Linked DNA regions of Homo sapiens. The protein of the gene in region 1 interacts with the protein of each later gene in a pairwise test. Each region holds a gene or a part of one and is shown in the gene's direction. Other genes may lie near its edges. The genes, in order: EPSTI1 and PTPRJ.

The links.
Region 2: the proteins of EPSTI1 (region 1) and PTPRJ interact in a two-hybrid assay, tested with the Homo sapiens proteins (one large-scale study listed by BioGRID and IntAct).

The regions. Positions count from the first base shown.
Region 1 is NC_000013.11:42,961,205-42,965,025, reverse strand, and holds part of EPSTI1 (epithelial-stromal interaction protein 1), read left to right. Parts: intron 1-886; coding exon 887-960; intron 961-1,687; coding exon 1,688-1,771; intron 1,772-3,821. UniProt on the Homo sapiens protein: Plays a role in M1 macrophage polarization and is required for the proper regulation of gene expression during M1 versus M2 macrophage differentiation.
Region 2 is NC_000011.10:48,133,744-48,137,564, forward strand, and holds part of PTPRJ (receptor-type tyrosine-protein phosphatase eta isoform 1 precursor), read left to right. Parts: intron 1-2,295; coding exon 2,296-2,553; intron 2,554-3,259; coding exon 3,260-3,538; intron 3,539-3,821. UniProt on the Homo sapiens protein: Tyrosine phosphatase which dephosphorylates or contributes to the dephosphorylation of CTNND1, FLT3, PDGFRB, MET, KDR, LYN, SRC, MAPK1, MAPK3, EGFR, TJP1, OCLN, PIK3R1 and PIK3R2. Plays a role in cell adhesion, migration, proliferation and differentiation.

The DNA.
Region 1 (3,821 bases):
TCCCTATGGTATCTTTCTCAGTTCAATTATAAGATTTATAGTGAACACAAATTGTTTTAATGCATCTTCTGTGAGAGTGAATCTTTCAGAGAGCTGACACTTTTAGTGACCAAAGCACCAGAGAATTATTTCAAAGGAATCTTTATAATACGCACACCAAGCTTGCATAAACACTGAGAATTCCCTAAATGGTAATTCTTAGATGATTGTCAAGCTGCCAGGATTTCTGGCCCCAAATTCTTTTAGGTTTAAGAGAGAGCAAGTAAATAATCTAACATCCATATTTTTATTTTGACTATATAAGGAAAGAACAATAAATAGTATGGATTGATGATCAGTTACTAACTAGAATATTCCCATTGTATTTTTAGAAACTGGGTTATAAAGACTACATGCTTGTCTAGTGGCAAGACCTCTGAGAGCCTCCTGAGCCTTGCTGCTTGAATATAAGGCAATAGAGTTAGAAGAAGAAAAGCAATAGAAGCACCTTTGATCACCATCTTTACTAGGTTCGGGCATGGTCATATTCAAGCAGGAGGAATATTCTACAGTTTCCAAGACAGGCACTATTTCTTCTGTTTAGCACAGACCTTTAGGTATGATTTCAATCCAAGTGAAAACTTTAATACCTACATGATTGAAAAACCTTAGTAAAAGTGCTCTTTTGTTTTAAAAATATGGTCTCCTCTTTCTATCCAGCTCTTTCTTCTAAGTGATTCCCCTTCTTTAAGGTCTTCTTGGAAAACTGGTTATGTTCTTATTTGCAAGAGCATGAGAATGTTAAGGGAACTCATGTTATAGATTTATTATATATTAATTAGTCCTCGATGGCTGACATTTCAGCTTAATATTTATGTTTCACCTTCATGGATTTTTTTTTCCTAAGGTGGAAGCCAGTCAGAAACTGAAGTCAGACAGAAACAACAACTCCAGCTGATGCAATCTAAATACAAGCAAAAGGTCAGAATTCATCTCTTTTAGTTGAATTTTGGTAAGGAATATGAGTACCAGCTCTTACAAGTAACTGTGAAATAACACAGTAACTTTACCAAAAGTATAAAACCTTCCAACCAGTTGCAAAAGGCAGCTTTCAGAATCAAAGCTCTCAGGAAGTGAGAAGTGAAGAGATGGATACCTTCAATTCCTACCTAAGCCCTTTATCACTCAGCATGACCCTCGATTAAGGGAATTATTTTTTTCATTTAAGTTAACTATGTTTAACTATAGTTTAAAGTCTACTATGTTTGGAATGTTTTGGTTCTAAGAATATGGATTTGTTTACTGCATGGCAGTCATGGAAGTAGTACAAAAAATATTTAAGATTCCCAGCGATTTTTACAATGAACACTGAGTTTTGTAATCAGGAAAAATTATTTTCCCTTTTCCCTCCCCAATACACACACACACCACACACACATACACACAGAGAGAGACAGAGATAGACAAAGACAGAGACGTTGAAAAAGAGACAGACCAAGGAAGAAACACAAAGACAGAAATTTCACGGGCAGAAGACGTAGCCCGGCCATTCTCTGTGATCTAAGTAGCTTGAAGTAACAACCTATAATCATGGTGAGGTATAGCACAAACAATACTGTAATTTGCCTTTCATCATAATTTTGTGTTCCAGAGTTCAGACTGAAAAATGGTAACTGTTTTTGTTCTCTGTAATTTCAATACAATTTAGCTAAAAAGAGAAGAATCTGTAAGAATCAAGAAGGAAGCTGAAGAAGCTGAACTCCAAAAAATGAAGGCAATTCAGAGAGAGAAGGTAAGGAGGAGGAGGATTAGTTCACATTTGCTGATCAACAATTATAGTTTCGTTGTAGAAGATTTTTATTATAGTAACTTTAAAAATTTATCCATCTTTCTCTCTCTCTCTCTTTCTATTCCCCACTCTTCTTTTCCTCATCCAGTTTTTTTCCTTCCATTTTATCCTTCAAAGGAAGATTCATGCTTAGGTCTTGTGATTCTAGAGGAGGCACTCTCTTTACGGAGCATAGCCTGTATTTCAGGTAGAACAAAGACAATTGTTAAGTCATCACCAGGAACAGGGTGAAGAGGCTTGCAGACCCTTAATAATTATTGTATTGCAACCTCTTGTCCTAAAGATCATTTATTCGTTGTCATTTAATACCCATCATTGGCTGGCGTGTGGGTCATTTACAGCTAATTTCTTCATGGGTCAATAATGTACGCTATTCATAAATGTTTGTGGTTGAAACTGTTTCCTTTCTTTTTTTTTTGAGACGGGGTCTCACTCTGTTGCACAGGCTGGAGTGCAGTGGTGTGATCACAGCTCACTGCAGCCTCAGTCTCCTGGGGTCAGGCAGTCCTCCCACCTCAGCCTCCTGAGTAGCTGGGACTACAGGTTAACACCACTATAGCTATTTTTTTTTTTTTTTTGTATTTTTTGTAGAGACAGGGAGGGTTTCACCATGTTGCCAAGGCTGGTCTCGAACTCTTGGGCTCAAGGGATCCACCTGCCTTGGCCTCCCAAAGTGCTGGGATTACAGGAATGAGCCACCATGCCTGGCCTAAACTGTTTAAACATTGTCTAAAAGTAGTGTTTTTCCCTTTCCTAATATGATAACTGTAATTCTGTTGGCATAAATTTGCCAGGATGTGAGAGATGGGGAGAGAGAGTTGATCTGTAGACCCTTCCCATTGAAAATATGGCCCTTGAACAAGCACCATTGGCATCATCTGGGAGTTTGTTAGAAGAGCAGAATCTTGAGCCCTACCTCAGACCTACCGAATCAGAATCTGCATTTTAACAAGCTCCCCAGGTAATTCCTGTGCACATAAAAGCTCGAGGAGCATAAATTTAAATGACCTTGCAAAAGAAGGGGTGACCCATCCTTGTTCTTCCACAGATGTGATTTCTCTGGCTGATTGGCCTGCACTGTCACCATGATCCTAGCCTTCCCTGTTGTAGATAAATCTGTAGCTTTTCATGTTAAATGTGAGCCTAGTTAGTAGCTTGTGTCAGATAAGAAAAATGAACATTAGCCATCTAGAAATGACATATTTCACATTGCCAGTGTGGAAATGGCCGAGGGAAGTGATAATGGCTGTGCTTATGGAGCACTTATATTTTAAAATGCACAGCAAACACACACATGGACATCAGCCTGCAAACACGCTGCCCTCCTCCCCAGGCAAATGGCTGCTGCCCAGTAAACTCTGAGCCAAGTAGAATCCAAGCAGCCTATTGCCACCCAAGAGCCTCTAGCCTTGTCTCTGGTCTTCCCCCACTGGCTGCTGGTCCCCTTCTGCCCTTCATTTCCTTCTCTCCCAAAAGAAGTCAGGGGACACTGGGTCTCATTCTGATTGGTCGTCATCTCTGTGTGCAGCATTTAGTGAGGGAAGAATAGACTGGATTCCTTGCCAGCATTTGTGCATGTTCTTTGATCCTTAATAGACAGACAGGTGTGAAAGTCAACCAGCTCTTTAGTATCCAGTCATGTCAGTGGGGCCCAGGAAGAGTTAATCCTATGGGTACAAAGGGAAATTTGGAGACAGCACTGGTATACTTGAGTTGTATTCAGTTCAGGAATGTAACTTGCATTCCCTAGACTAGAGTCTGTCACAGTATATATACTTCTAGTGATGTTCTGTAGCTTCCTTGTACTGCCTTGTACTGTGGGAATTGTCACATTTTCAGGATTTTTTTGAGCTACTTGGCTTCATCATTGTCAGTTTGAAACCGACTGTGGTGGAAAATATTTACGATGTGGAAATCAGTAAATGCTACAGATTAATTTCCCCTCCTGCTCCTACCTGCTAGACCTGATTAAATGTTGACCAGCACACCACTG
Region 2 (3,821 bases), on another chromosome or scaffold:
TTCATCCATACAACAAAATACTATTCAGCCATAAGAAAGAAAGAAATTCTGATTTATGGTACAACATGGATGGATCTTGAGGACATTATGCTAAGTGAAGCCAGACACAGAAGGACAAATACTGGATGATTCCACTTACATGAGTACCTAGATTAGGCAACTTAATATTCTACAGAAATTAGAATAGAGGTTACCAGGGGCTGTTCAGAGGAGGGAGTGGGCATTATTGTTTAATGGCTACAGTTTATGCTGGGGATAATGACAGTGTTTTGGGTACAGGTAGTGGTGATAGTTACACAACATTGTGAATATTGATGATACCGAATTGTACACTGACAAATGGTTAAGATGATAAATATTATGGTATGTATGTTTTACCACAATAAAAATGAAAAGGAACAAATATCTCTATTTTTCTAACCCAACTGAATTCCTTTTCTCTCTGTGTCCACAGTCATACATTTTGCTTGTATACTGTAATTATTATACAAATACTTTTATTTTGTATTTGAATTTCTTTTTACTCAGTCTATACCACAACTTTCCCCTATAGTTAGCATGGCCTTCATATTTTTAGTGGCTAAAGAGTATTTCATCATGCAGCCAGATCACAGTGCCCACAGCCCTCCCCATGTTATTGAATATTTAGGTTGTTTCTAGGTTTTTATGTTTATAGACAAAGGCTGCCTTTCATGGGCTTTTGTCTGTGGAATCCCTTTGACATCAGGAATCTGCTGGTAGGAAACAAAGGCTCCTCCCAGTGGCTTCTCTGTAAGGAGAATCCACTTAAAATTAAAAAAAAAATTAATTTTGGAGTAGATAGTACGTAAACATGGCACAATTTTTTTTGTTTTTTGGACAAGGTGTTTGCAGTGAAAGCATTTCCCTTTTTTGTCCCCTACCTGCCCATTTCCTCTCCCTGGAGGTGACGTTTGTTGCCAGGTAAAGAGAGACAGGGTTGAAAGCCGCGGTAGAAAATAGGCCCAGCCTCCGCGGTTACTTCCGGGCCTCTATGTAGGCATCCCTGGTGCAGGTGGCTGAGTGGGCAGCGGGAGATGATCGGAGGATGGGCTCCTGTGGGAGATTCCATTTCTGACTCTGCTCTGAAGGTGCAGGGTGTGCCTGTTTTCTTCCCTTCCTCATCCGTCCTCAAATGCTGCAACTTAGTAAAGGTCAGCTCTCCATTTCAGTTTTCCTCTTTGGTATGTAAGGCTGTGTCACGGGAAGATGTTTCCTTCTGAGTGACTGATTTAAAAAACACAACAAAACAAAAAAACCTCTTTATTGAGATATAATATACATACCGAAAAGGGATGTATCCTCAGCACATAGCTTCATGAACTTTTACAAACTGAACACATCTTGTTACCAGCACCCATATAAAAAAACTGAATGTGATTTCCACTTCAGATGACCCCTTGAAGGGCTTTTTTTTTTTTTTTTTTTTTGAGATGGAGTTTCGCTCTTGTTGCCCAGGCTGGAGTGCGATGGCGCGATCTTGGCTCACTGCAACCTCTGCCTTCCGGGTTCAAGTGATTCTCCTGCCTCAGCCTCCCAAGTAGCTGGGACTACAGGCATGCACCACCACGCCCGGCTAATTTTGTACTTTTTTTGATAGAGACGGGGTTTCTCCATGCTGGTCAGGCTGGTCTCAAACTCCCGACTTCAGGTGATCCGCCTGCCTTGGCTGCCCAAAGTGCTGGGATTACAGGCGTGATCCACCGCGCCTGGCCTTTTTTTTTTTTTTTTTTTTTTTGAGACAGAGCCTCATTCTGTCGCCCAGGCTGGAGTGCAGTGGTGTGATATCGGCTCACTGCAACCTCTGCCTTCTGGGTTCAAGCGACTCTTGTGCCCCAGCCTCCCGAGTAGCTGGGATTACAGGCGTGTACCACCACACCCAACTAATTTTTGTATTTTTAGTAGAGATGGGTTTTCACCATGTTGGCCAGGCTAGTCTCGAACCTCTGACCTCAAGTGATCCATCTCGGCTTCCCAAAATGTTGGGATTACAGGCATGAGCCATTGCACCCAGCCTAAGGGCTCATTTTTAAGACAACAACAAAAAACTGGAGAACTGGTAAGATAAACTGGGAAGTTCATGTGCGTCACAGAAGAGCTGAAATTCTTGAGAGCACTGAGTGTGTGCATTTCTCAGCTCGATTTTGGAGTGTGCCTTTTGTGAACTCATTAGAAAGCGTAATGGCAAAAGAGCAGGTCCTCTCGACAGCACTTGGAGAGGAAGCTGGGCGTCATGATAGTAACAGTTTTCCCTTCTCCTTCCTTTCTTCTGAGCAGTTCCCAGTGCAGTGTTTGACATCCACGTGGTCTACGTCACCACCACGGAGATGTGGCTGGACTGGAAGAGCCCTGACGGTGCTTCCGAGTATGTCTACCATTTAGTCATAGAGTCCAAGCATGGCTCTAACCACACAAGCACGTATGACAAAGCGATTACTCTCCAGGGCCTGATTCCGGGCACCTTATATAACATCACCATCTCTCCAGAAGTGGACCACGTCTGGGGGGACCCCAACTCCACTGCACAGTACACACGTAAGTCTCTTAGGATGCCCTTCTAAGGAACAGCCTCTCTAACTGTCTCTTGGAGGAGGCACTGGTTAAATGATGGCCAGTGTGCTTCTGGGATCCAGGTTGACTCTGAAACTGCTGAAGTTGAAAACATTGGTCTCAGCAATGGTTCTGCTGTCACCATGGGGCACTGTTCTTCAAGCTATGTGAACTTAGAATTGTCATTAGAAGGAAGAAATGATTCCTTGGGAATGGTGACTGAAATGGTTCTAGTCATTCCTTGAGAATACAGAGTAGAGAAGGGTCACCTTGTCATGTTGGTATTGGAAGATACTGCCCAGATGAGGAGCTTCGCCTGCAACAGTTAGGGAGGTGTTTTGCGAATATTTGAATTAAATACATGGTAAAGATGTTAGTTTGTAATATGTTTTTAGTATATTTTTCTCCATCTATTAGATTTAAAAAACAGATTAGAAATTAAATGTTAAAAATATATTTGAAATAAACTTGAAGTATTAAAAGAAGCCTAAATTAAACTTCTTTTGAGACTTAATCTGTATAATTATTTTCTTGATGTGTTTTTGGGAAGTTTTCCATCTTTTGAGCCAGCAAATACTAGTTTTATTCATTCTTTCTAAAACGAGCCAGGCTATTTTTGGATATAGTAAATAGTCCTGGAATTCTACTTAATCTGTGCTTTTACATGAATTGCCTTTTTTTTAAAATCAAGGGCCCAGCAATGTGTCCAACATTGATGTAAGTACCAACACCACAGCAGCAACTTTAAGTTGGCAGAACTTTGATGACGCCTCTCCCACGTACTCCTACTGCCTTCTTATTGAGAAGGCTGGAAATTCCAGCAACGCAACACAAGTAGTCACGGACATTGGAATTACTGACGCTACAGTCACTGAATTAATACCTGGCTCATCATACACAGTGGAGATCTTTGCACAAGTAGGGGATGGGATCAAGTCACTGGAACCTGGCCGGAAGTCATTCTGTACAGGTGAGTGTAGCCCCAACTGCCTCTTGGACTCCTCCCTGAGTGGTGCTGACCTTGCAGGTCAGTCCTCCCAAGTCTGTAGTTTGTCTGGTTTTGTGTGATGTGCAGTGATGGACATTGAGCTTTCCGAGGCATCCTGTTAGCTTATCGGTGCTGTCTCGATGCCCTCATCATTTCTGCATTCAATAAATATTTATTGAGCATATACCATATGCCAGTCAAGTCCTTGCCTTCTTGGAACTTTTCGAAGGAGGAAGTGGGATGTTTACCTAGAGTGCTCAGGAAA